2 separate regions of the Homo sapiens genome follow, and region 1 is linked to region 2. A link means that fine-mapping ties the variant in region 2 to the expression of a gene that starts in the linked region. Tissue or cell type: whole blood. Region 2 holds a variant in brackets; the other region holds the start of a gene. Each region is shown on its reference strand, or each on the opposite one. Region 1 holds the start of CYP2C8 (cytochrome P450 family 2 subfamily C member 8). Region 2 overlaps ZNF169 (zinc finger protein 169).

The links.
Region 1: CYP2C8 starts here. The variant in region 2 is fine-mapped to the expression of CYP2C8 in whole blood (TOPMed, PIP above 0.99).

What each region holds. Positions count from the first base shown.
Region 1 is chr10:95,067,495-95,072,822 of GRCh38, forward strand. It overlaps CYP2C8 (cytochrome P450 family 2 subfamily C member 8), which reads right to left and starts at 2,003. Exons shown (of 9, transcript NM_000770.3): 1 at 1,741-2,003; 2 at 35-197. The coding sequence starts at 1,908. RefSeq lists a promoter at 1,908-4,875 and a cis regulatory region at 3,818-3,838.
Region 2 is chr9:94,298,384-94,303,765 of GRCh38, forward strand. ZNF169 (zinc finger protein 169) reads left to right here. Exons shown (of 5, transcript NM_194320.4): 5 at 1,432-3,446. The coding sequence ends at 2,987. Among named protein-coding and RNA genes, the nearest start is that of NUTM2F, 28 kb to the right of the region's middle. The variant C/T (reference allele first, on the strand shown) is at 2,316.

The DNA.
Region 1 (5,328 bases), not on the chromosome of region 2:
TTACCAAAGCTGACACAGAAATATGTGCACCTACCAAGTCCTTTAGTAATTCTTTGAGATATTGGGGAATTGCCTCTTCCAGAAAACTCCTCTCCATTATCAATCAGGGCTTCCTTCACTGCCTCATATCCATGAAACACCACTATGGGATTCATGCCAAAATACACGGTGAACACAGGACCATAGACTTTTGAGAACTGGGAAAGGAAATGCAAATAGCAGCAAAATAAGTCGCTATTTGCTCCAAATACTATGTATGATTCAGACTGACATTTTCATTGTATTTTTTAATGTTCATATTTGCCACACATAGATTCGATATTTCTGAATTTTGTACATAAATGTGATGGTGATTGTTATAGCTGCCACTTATAGATGGCCTGTGATGTGCCACGCAATGACCCAGGCAATTGGTACACAAATCACACAGTTCATCCTCACTTCAACACATTCAGCACATTCATTTGACCTGTTTTAAAAATGAAGAAACTGAGGCCAGAGAATTGCAGATTCATTCTCAGAGTCCCACAGGTAATATGTAGAAGCTCCAAACTGGAATCTCTGCTAATTTAAACTGATGCTTGAGCAATTAATCAATCCCCCATGTCCACCTTGAGGCCACTACCCAGCTAAAGACTTCAGGGTCACTTGTAAAGCTCTTAACATGAGGATTCTGATACAGCAGTCCTGTGATGAACCCTAGAAATCTGTATTTACAGTGTCACCCCAGGTGATTCTAATGCCCAGTCCAGTTTGTAACTGCTGGTATTACCAATATGGAACGATGAAGCACCACAAAGTTAGAATCAGGACATTCAGCATCTCCTGGAAGAACAATTTCTTCCATTCTCCAGCAACCTTGGCCACAGACAGTGGCTTTCTTCAGAATCCAAAAGAATTCTGTTAACTACCTATTGGGCCCTGACTGATTACTTCTTTCTTTCATGCACTTATGTTTGCCCTGAACCCACAGATATTTATTTCACATCAGCCATCAAATGAATCTTCAGAGAAGTTCAATTTTCATGACCATTCTGAATAAAACACATGACTACTATAGTAGAGAACTTATTGGATGAAATTTCTAATCACACACACTTCCCTTCACCTTCAGTCAAAAATCATAGCAAAACACTGTGAAACAAAGAGGAGAAACAGCACTTTAAACTTTTGCCACTGTATTAAATGATTATATAATACAATGACCCCAATGTTTCTGTATTCACAAAATGCATCAACTCACTCCGCTATTTCTGACAATGACAGACTTAGAAAGACAAAAGAGGCCAGGTACGGTGGCTCACACATGTAATCCCAGCACTTTGGGAGGCCAAGGCAGGCAGATCATGAGGTCAGGAGACTGAGACCATTCTGGCTAACACGGTGAAACCCTGTCTCTACTAAAACATACAAAAAATTAGCCGGGCATGGTGGAGGGCACCTGTAGTCCCAGTTACTCGGGGGAGGCTGAGGCAGGAGAATGGTGTGAACCTGGGAGGCAGAGCTTGCAGTGAGTGGAGATAGTGCCACTGCACTCCAGCCTGGGCAATAGAGCGAGACTCCGTCTCAAAAAAAAAAAAAATAGGAAGACAAAAGAAACATCAAAGAAGTTCAGAGGGAGTATTTTGCTTTACAATGATCTATTATAATAGTGTGCTTCCAGGAATATATTTTGTCTAAAAATAGCAGTCAAATAACTTACCCTTTGCAATTGGCTGGAGGAACATAAGGCAGACTTACATTGGTGAAAGATTTGCAGATGTCCTTAACATCTATCTGTAGCATATTTCCAATAATAGGAAGAGGAGTGGGGCCAGGAGGGAGCTTCCTTCTCCTACAGCTCTGTCTCCAGAGTGAAAAGAGAAGCATAAAAGAGAGACACAGCACCAGGACCACAAAAGGTTCCATTGAAGCCTTCTCTTCTTATTAAGACAGCTGTGAGCTTGCACTCCAAAGTTTTTATAACACTCCCTGCTAATTTAGTGTGTGTCTCTTTGACATGTAAAGTAAACAATCACCTAGATCCAATTTATACTTTTTTTCTGAGTGGACTTTGGCCCATGGATAGAAATAAAATGTTCTTTTGTCCTACTCCTTCTTTCCAGTGCCAATCTAGGAGATTCTGGTTTAATTGTATTGGATTGGAGCCCAGGTATTTTTAATTAAAAGTCCCTGGTTGTTCCAATGTGCTGTGATGATGGAGAAACACTGAAGTAAATGATTCTATGTTAGAATATACTCAAAATTCAATATTCTCAGATTAATGACCAGTTGGGAATTTATGACCTTGAGGGAAATCAGTGTATTCTATATTTTGTGTATAAAAAATGTACATTGTAATGCTATATCAAAAAATAGGAGACTTAGCCCTTGATAACAAAAGCCTTTCAAATATTTAGTATAGTTCACTTAAAATACAGCTGCCTAAACATGAAATAGTGAATATAACTCATACATGTTGAATTACCATACATATATCAAATTATTAGCTAATAAATGTATATTTATATATATTTAAATGTATATAAACAATATACATAAATATATATGTTATTACATAATAATATTTGTGTTATTATTACATTATTATAATAATAGGTGATTATTTACTTTACATGTCAAAGAGACAAACTGAATTAGCAGGGAGTGTTACATACATTATTACATAATAATAACATAAATACATATTTATACTATTAAATATTATATTAAATATATAAAAGTATATATATAAATGTATATTCATCATTAAAAGAGACTGGAGTATAAAGATTATCATTTTTTATTTTTCAAATTGGGAAAGAAACTCTGGGAGAACAGGACACCTGTCAGTGCCACACAGCTCATTGCCGGTAAAACCGGGATTTGAGCAGAGATCTTCTGATACCCATTGGGGTTCATTACCACTTACACCACAGCTGGCTCAAGAACAATTTTAGAAAAACAAAACAAACCCCAGACATTAGTTACTCTGAAGATACGCCACCTTGACTCTGTTCAGAAAGCAACAGGCTTCACATTAAATAGAAGTCCGTTATTTGTTTATAAGGATAAGAGGACCGGAGACGCTCAAAAGAAGAAATAAAAATTAGAGTTCTCCCCTCTGCATCACCTCACAAGTGAAAGTTGTTCAGCACTATTAAGGAAAGGGCCAATCTCACATAATTTATGGCACAGGGCTTGAAAATCTATGGCTTCTCCACCTTCCAGTCACCTCCAGACATGGCTGCTTCTATTGTTTTTGGTCTGTTATTGTTACAAATAATAGAATGTAATCATACACAGCAAGGAAGAGAAATTATACACAGAACAACAGTTGTGGATTCAACAGAAGATGGAACACAGGGAAATCACTGAATGGACCCAGGGCACAGAACCACTGCAATGTGCAGACCTGAAATGGGAACTGATAGTCAATGGTCATGAAGATCTAAATACAACTGGATTTATGAACATTACTAGATCACTAATAACAAAGTGTGTATACAAAGGCATGCTCTGAAAAGATTACCTTTATTCTAAATTGACCAGTACAGTTATTTCCAGCTCTTTCATTAAGAAAATATTAAGACCCAGTTATACAATGTTTTATCGATTATGTTTATAGACATTATGACAAATTTACAGAGAATTTTCACACTCATCACATCTCTTTTTATTCTCTCAATTATCTTTGCCCACTGTAAAATTATTCCCAGTTTAGAGAGGAGAAAGTTAGACCATGGAGATTCAGTACTTTAGCTAAGGACACACAGAATGCAAGTGACCAAGCTGGGGCTGGAAACCATAACCCCTGCATCTTGCTGCCTTCCTTTTAAGCAAAACATCCAGTTAAACCGGGCCACCAAGATTGACTAAAATTCAATACTTGTGGATTAATCTAATCAGTGACTTTCAAAATAAACATTAATTTAGTTAATAATTCTAGCACCAGTTGAGTAAAATGTGGGTCAGACGTGTTTGGTTTTATAACCTTTAAAAGGTGAGTGAGTCCAGGTCCTGGTGAACCCTTTATCCAGGGCAAAGGGAAGTAGTAATTTGCTGCCTCACTCACGTAGGTATAAGCTAGTTTATTTGGATAAAATAAGTTCACTTTCTCTCTTTAGAGCAATAATTTTATTCCTTGAGAAACAGTTGCCCTTGCTCTGCTCCTTGTTTCTTCTCCTGAGCTGAGGCTCCTGCCTTGACCTTTCTTTTTATAGAATAAAAGGAACATAGATAATTTAAAGACAGACGGGATCTCTGAGATCTACTAATTTAATTTTGCTTTGTTTTTCAGGAATGAGCAATTGGTGACTCAGTGAGTTAGAGCATTATCAATGCACCAGTAAAAGATTTTGTATTAGAATCCCAGTTTTCCTGCTTGGTGGTTCAGTGAAATACCCTATCCTATAGAATTCCCACCTAAGTCCAAATGATCAAGAGTGTATTAGCATTAATTAAGCCCTCTACAGTCACAGATTGACACCCACCTCAGCTTGGATAGGGTTGTGAATTAGAGCGGGGTTTTTTTTTAATTAATAGAATTTATTTTTATAGCAATTTTAGGCTCCGAGCAACAGTTCCCACAAACCCCTTCACCACACCTACAAATAGTCTTTCCCACAATCAACAACCCCCATCAGTGGGGTTCATTAGTTACAGTCAGTGAGCCAACAATAAGACATAATCATCAACCAAAGTTCGAAGTTCACATAGGGTTTACTGTTTGTGTTGTACATTCTATAAATTTGACTGATGTATAATGCCATATATCCACCATCGTAGCATCATACAGAATAGATTTGCTGTCCTAAAAACCCCCCATGCTCTGCGTATTCTCTCCCTTCCATGCAAGTCCTTGGTAACAAGTGAACCACAGTTCACTTTAGTGTTGCCATGGTTTTGCCTTTACTATAAGAGATTGTTATATAGTTGGAATCACACAGTATGTAGCCTTTTCAGGCAGGTTTCCATCACTTATTAATATGCAGAAGGTTTCTCCATGTCGTCTCATGGCTTGAAAGCTCATTTCTTCTTACCACCAAATAGTAATATAATAATATTCCCTTGCATTGATGTACCACAGTTTATCTGTTCATCTAGTGAAGGATATCTTGGTTGCTTCCAATTTTGGCAATAATGAATAAAGATGCTATAAATGTCCTTGTGCAAGTTTTGTGTGGACATATGTTTTCAACTCATTTGGCAAATATCAAGGAGCACAACTGCTGGATCATATGGTAAGCATATTTTAGTTTTGTAAAAGCCACCAAACTCTCTTCCAGAGTGTCTGTGACATTTTGCATTCATATCAGCAATAACTAATAGTTCCCATTGCTTCAAATC
Region 2 (5,382 bases):
ATAAGAACTTAGTCCTGCCGAGCGCAGTGGCTCATGCCTATAACCCCAGCACTTTGGGAGGCCGAGGCAGGCGGATCACCTAAGGTCAGGAGTTCGAGACCAGCCTGGCCAACATGGTGAAACCCCGTCTCTCACCTAAGGTCAGGAGTTCAAGACCAGCCTGGCCAACATGGTGAAACCCGATCTCTACTAAAAATACAAAACTTAGCCGGGCATGGTGGTGCACGCCTGTAATCCCAGCTGCTCAGGAGGCTGAGACAGGAGAATTGCTTGAACCAGAGGTTGCAGTCAGCCAAGATCACGCCACTGCACTCCAGCCTGGGCAACAGAGCGAGACTCTGTCTCAAAAAAAAAAAAAAAAAAAAGAACTTAGTCAATAATTACCTAGGAGTTACGGTATCAACTTACGGAAGCTGAAAGCACTGCCAATTTCCAGAGCCTTTAATTTATACCATCATGGGAATTAGTGTTATCTCCAATTGGCAGCCTATTTAAACCTAGAAACAAAATTTTTTGAAAAAGTCAATTTGTATAGTTTTAACAGTTTTTGTGCATGGATAAGAATATGCTTAAGCCGAAATATGTATAATCCCTGAAACATCTTTATGCTAATGAGAAGTCATCTATTATTAACTTTCAAACGCTGAGCTTCTCCTTAATTCACCAGATTTTTTTAAAAATCCTGGATTATTGAGCAAAACAGTGTACGTAGTGTTGTGCAATGCTATTCGGGGAATATACTTGGCTGCAGTCTTCCCAGAGGCTAGAGGACAGCACCTTCATTTGCCCGGAGGGCAGCATCAGGGATTCCTCTTCTTCAAGAGGACTTAAGGGTGTCCATACAGTTCAGGAGACAACTCACATCAGGCTGATATGGAAGCTCCCTGGCCTAAAGCCTATTCCACACAGGAGCCAGTATCTCTTGCTACAGCTTATCTGATTCGTGGGTGCCCCTTACTTGAGTCACCACAGTCAAGGAAGCCCAAAGCATGGCTCCCCTTCAGATGCTAAGATCTTATTTATAGCACCTTCAAGATCATAATCAGTCTGTTTCTTAACTGCAGCTCAGACACCAAGTTCTTGGCTCTTGCATAAACAGCAGGCCGAACAAATGTTTCTCAGGCAAGGTTTAATAGGCTTGAGCTGGAGCAAAAGCAAGGGAGCGGCGCCCAAGAAAGGAAGATAAATGTGTAACTCTACTTGCAGCAATTTATAGAGCTGAAGCTGCCTGTGATGCTTTTTTGAACCTTTTAGTTTGGCTGATAGGACTAGTTTGTAGTGTGGGTTTTCTGTGCTGCAATAGAGCATGTAATGTGCCCTTGTGGGTTGGAAGATAAGTCTTTGTTGTGAACATCTGAAGAAAACTGCTGGGCAGGTATTACAATCCATGGTCACCTGTGGTGATTCTGACCAAGACTTTCTCTCTAGCAGAGCCTAGAACAGAATTCCAGCCAAGTTTTCCCCACCTGGTGGCCTTTTCTAGCTCGCAGCTCCTCAGACAATATGCGCTAAGTGGCCATCCCACACAGATCTTCCCAAGCTCATCTGCAGGAGGTGACTTCCAACTAGAAGCTCCAAGATGCTCTAGTGAAAAAGGAGAAAGTGGAGAGACAGAAGGCCCCGACAGCTCATTAAGAAAGAGGCCAAGCAGAATTTCTAGGACATTCTTCAGCCCACATCAAGGTGACCCAGTAGAATGGGTAGAAGGGAACAGAGAAGGAGGAACAGACCTTCGCCTGGCCCAAAGGATGAGTCTTGGGGGGTCAGACACAATGTTGAAGGGAGCAGACACTTCAGAATCTGGAGCAGTCATACGTGGAAACTATAGACTGGGACTTAGCAAAAAGTCAAGCCTGTTCAGCCACCAGAAGCATCATGTGTGCCCTGAATGCGGGAGAGGCTTTTGCCAGAGATCAGACCTTATCAAGCACCAGAGGACACACACCGGGGAGAAGCCATACCTGTGTCCTGAGTGTGGGCGTCGGTTTAGCCAGAAGGCCTCCCTCTCCATACACCAGAGGAAGCACTCGGGGGAGAAGCCGTATGTGTGCAGGGAATGTGGGCGACACTTCAGGTATACATCCTCTCTCACTAATCACAAGAGGATTCACTCCGGGGAGAGGCCCTTTGTATGTCAGGAGTGTGGGCGAGGCTTTCGCCAGAAGATAGCCCTCCTTCTACACCAGAGGACGCACTTGGAGGAGAAGCCCTTCGTGTGTCCTGAGTGTGGGAGAGGCTTTTGCCAGAAGGCATCACTCCTCCAGCACCAGAGCTCACACACAGGGGAGAGGCCCTTCCTGTGCCTTGAGTGTGGG[C/T]GTAGCTTCAGGCAGCAGTCACTCCTCCTTAGTCACCAGGTCACACACTCAGGAGAGAAGCCTTATGTCTGTGCTGAGTGTGGGCACAGCTTTCGCCAAAAGGTCACTCTCATCAGGCACCAGAGGACACACACAGGGGAGAAGCCTTACCTGTGCCCCCAGTGTGGGCGGGGTTTTAGCCAGAAGGTCACCCTCATTGGACACCAGAGGACACACACAGGGGAGAAGCCCTACCTGTGCCCTGATTGTGGGCGTGGCTTTGGTCAGAAGGTCACCCTCATCAGACACCAGAGGACACACACAGGGGAGAAGCCTTATCTGTGCCCCAAGTGTGGGCGTGCATTTGGCTTTAAGTCGCTCCTCACCCGACACCAGAGGACACACTCAGAGGAGGAGCTTTACGTAGACAGGGTGTGTGGACAAGGACTTGGCCAGAAGTCACACCTTATCTCTGACCAAAGGACACACTCAGGAGAGAAGCCCTGCATTTGCGATGAATGTGGGCGCGGCTTTGGCTTTAAGTCTGCCCTCATCCGACATCAGCGGACCCATTCTGGGGAGAAGCCGTATGTCTGCAGGGAGTGTGGGCGTGGCTTTAGCCAGAAGTCTCACTTGCATAGACACAGGAGGACCAAGTCTGGTCATCAGCTCCTACCCCAAGAGGTCTTCTGACCTTTCCTTTCCCCGTGAGTGTGAAGCTGGCAGAAATCACTAGTAAATGCTTCAGTTTCCTGAAATGGAATGGAAAAAAAAAAATGTTGCTTTCTTTCATCGATCATGAGATAGTTGATTTTTGGTTTACTTTCTATATTCACAATTTGTCTTGGCTTGCTAGGGGTTCCATAACAAAGTACCCCAGGCTGGGTGATTTTGACAACGGAAATATATTTTCATATTTATGGAGGCTGGAAGTCCCAGATGAACGTATTGGTAGGTTTGGCTGCTGCTTAAGCCTCTCTGTTTGGCTTGCGGATGGCTGCTTTCTGGCCACGTCCTCACGTGGGCTTTTTTCTGTGTGTATGCTTTCCTGGTGTGGCTTCCTCCTCTTCTAGGGACACCAGTCATTTTGGATAGAGCCACAGCCACATGGCCTCGTTTAACCTTAATAACCTTCCTAAAGGCCTTATCTCTAGATACAGTCACACTACACAGTTAGGACTTCAACATATGAATTTCTGGGAAACCCAATTTAGTCTATAACACTCCACTACCAAAGTTCAGGTCCCTCAGACATTCAAAATACATTCACATGATCCCAACAGTCCCAAAATTCTTTACCCATTTCAACTTCACCTCTAGATCCAAAATCTCATTTAAATATCATCTAAATCAAGTGTGAATGAGACTTTAGGTACAATTCATCCTTAGGCAAAATTCTCCAGGTGTGATCCTGTGAAACCAGACAGATATCTGCTTCCACAATATTCTACAATGGTGGGACAAGCAGAGGCTGGACTTCCCCATTCCAAAGGAAAGACATGAGAAAGAAATGAAGAATGATGGATCCCAAGCAAGTCTCAAACCTGGCAAGGCAACTTCCATTAGATTTTAAGTCTCGAGAATAATCCCCTTTGGCTCAGTGCTCTGCCTTCTGGGCCAACTGGATTGGCAGCCCTGCTTTTTAGGCTCACGGGAGCTGCAGTGTCGCTCCCTTGGCCCTTGGCAGCGGCTCCTGGCCCACTGAAATTGAGGAGGAGACACACTTGCCCTCTAGACCTGTACTCTCTGGGCCCATTAGAACCTTTGAGAATCACATTCTTCCCTTTTCTTGAAGATTAACGTGCGTTTGCAACTGGATAGCTCTATTGTACCTTCCCGTAGAATCCCAGAAGTCTAACAGCCTGCCTTCATTTTTGTCCTGTCTCTTTCTCTATTCAGTTCAAGCTGGCAGCATTTCTGGTGAGATGGTTAATTGGTTCCATTCAGACCTATACTAATCTCTTTATCACATGGTTGTCCAGCCACACCCTAGTGTTCTTTCAAGAACATACTTTCTCATTTTTTGCAATGCGGACAGGCTGAGAATTTTCCAAATCTTTAAGTACTGGTTCTTTTTTGCTTAACAGTTCCTTCAATTTATCTTTCTCCTCTAATATTTTACTATAAGCAGCAAGGAGAAAACAGACTCCACTTGCATCACTTTGTGTAGAAATATCACCTGAATATTCTGCACTGCCTCACTCACAATTTCTGTACTCCACAAAACACTAGAACGCAATTTGGGCAAGTCCTTTGCAAGGATTCCAGTTTCCCATTACCCATTCCTCATTTCTGTCTGAGACTTAACCACAATCACCTTAAAATTAAAAACAAAACAAAACAAAACAAAAAAAAACCCCAAACATTTTGTAGATACGGGTTTTTGCTATGTTGCTTAGGCTGGTCTCATACACCTGGCCTCAAATGATCCTCCTGCTTTGCCCTCTCAAAGTGTGAGCCACCACACCCAGCCCAGAACCTTTTAACATCTACATTCCTACCAACAGTGTTTTAAAGGTCATCCAGGCTTTTCCTAACATGTGCCTCAGAACTCTTGTAGCTTCTTTCTACCGAGTACCCAGTTCCAAGTCACTTCCACATTTTAGGTTACAAAGCATCCCAATCACAGTACCAAAATCTGTATTAATTTGCTAGGGCTGACATAAGAAAACACCAGACTGGGTGCCTTAAGCAATAGAATATTTATCTTCTCACAGTTCAGGAAACTGGAAGTCCTAGAATGAGGTGTTGGCAGGTTTGGTTTCTACTAAGGCCTCTCTCCTTGGCCTGCAGATGGCTGCCTTCCCTCTGTGGTGTCTCATAGCTTATTCTTTGTACACACACTTTCCTGGTGTCTCTCATTAAAAGGACACCAGTGATACTGGATTAGGGCAACACCCTAAAGACCTTGTTTTAACCTTAATTACAACTTTAAATGTCCTGTATGCAAAAACAGTCACACTGGGGATTAGGGATTCAACATATGAATTTGGGTGGGGAGGGACACAATTTAGTCCATAACACTCTGCCTTCTGGACTTCCAAAATTCGTATCTAGCCGTGAGCGCCTGCCATAAGAGTGCTCTCTT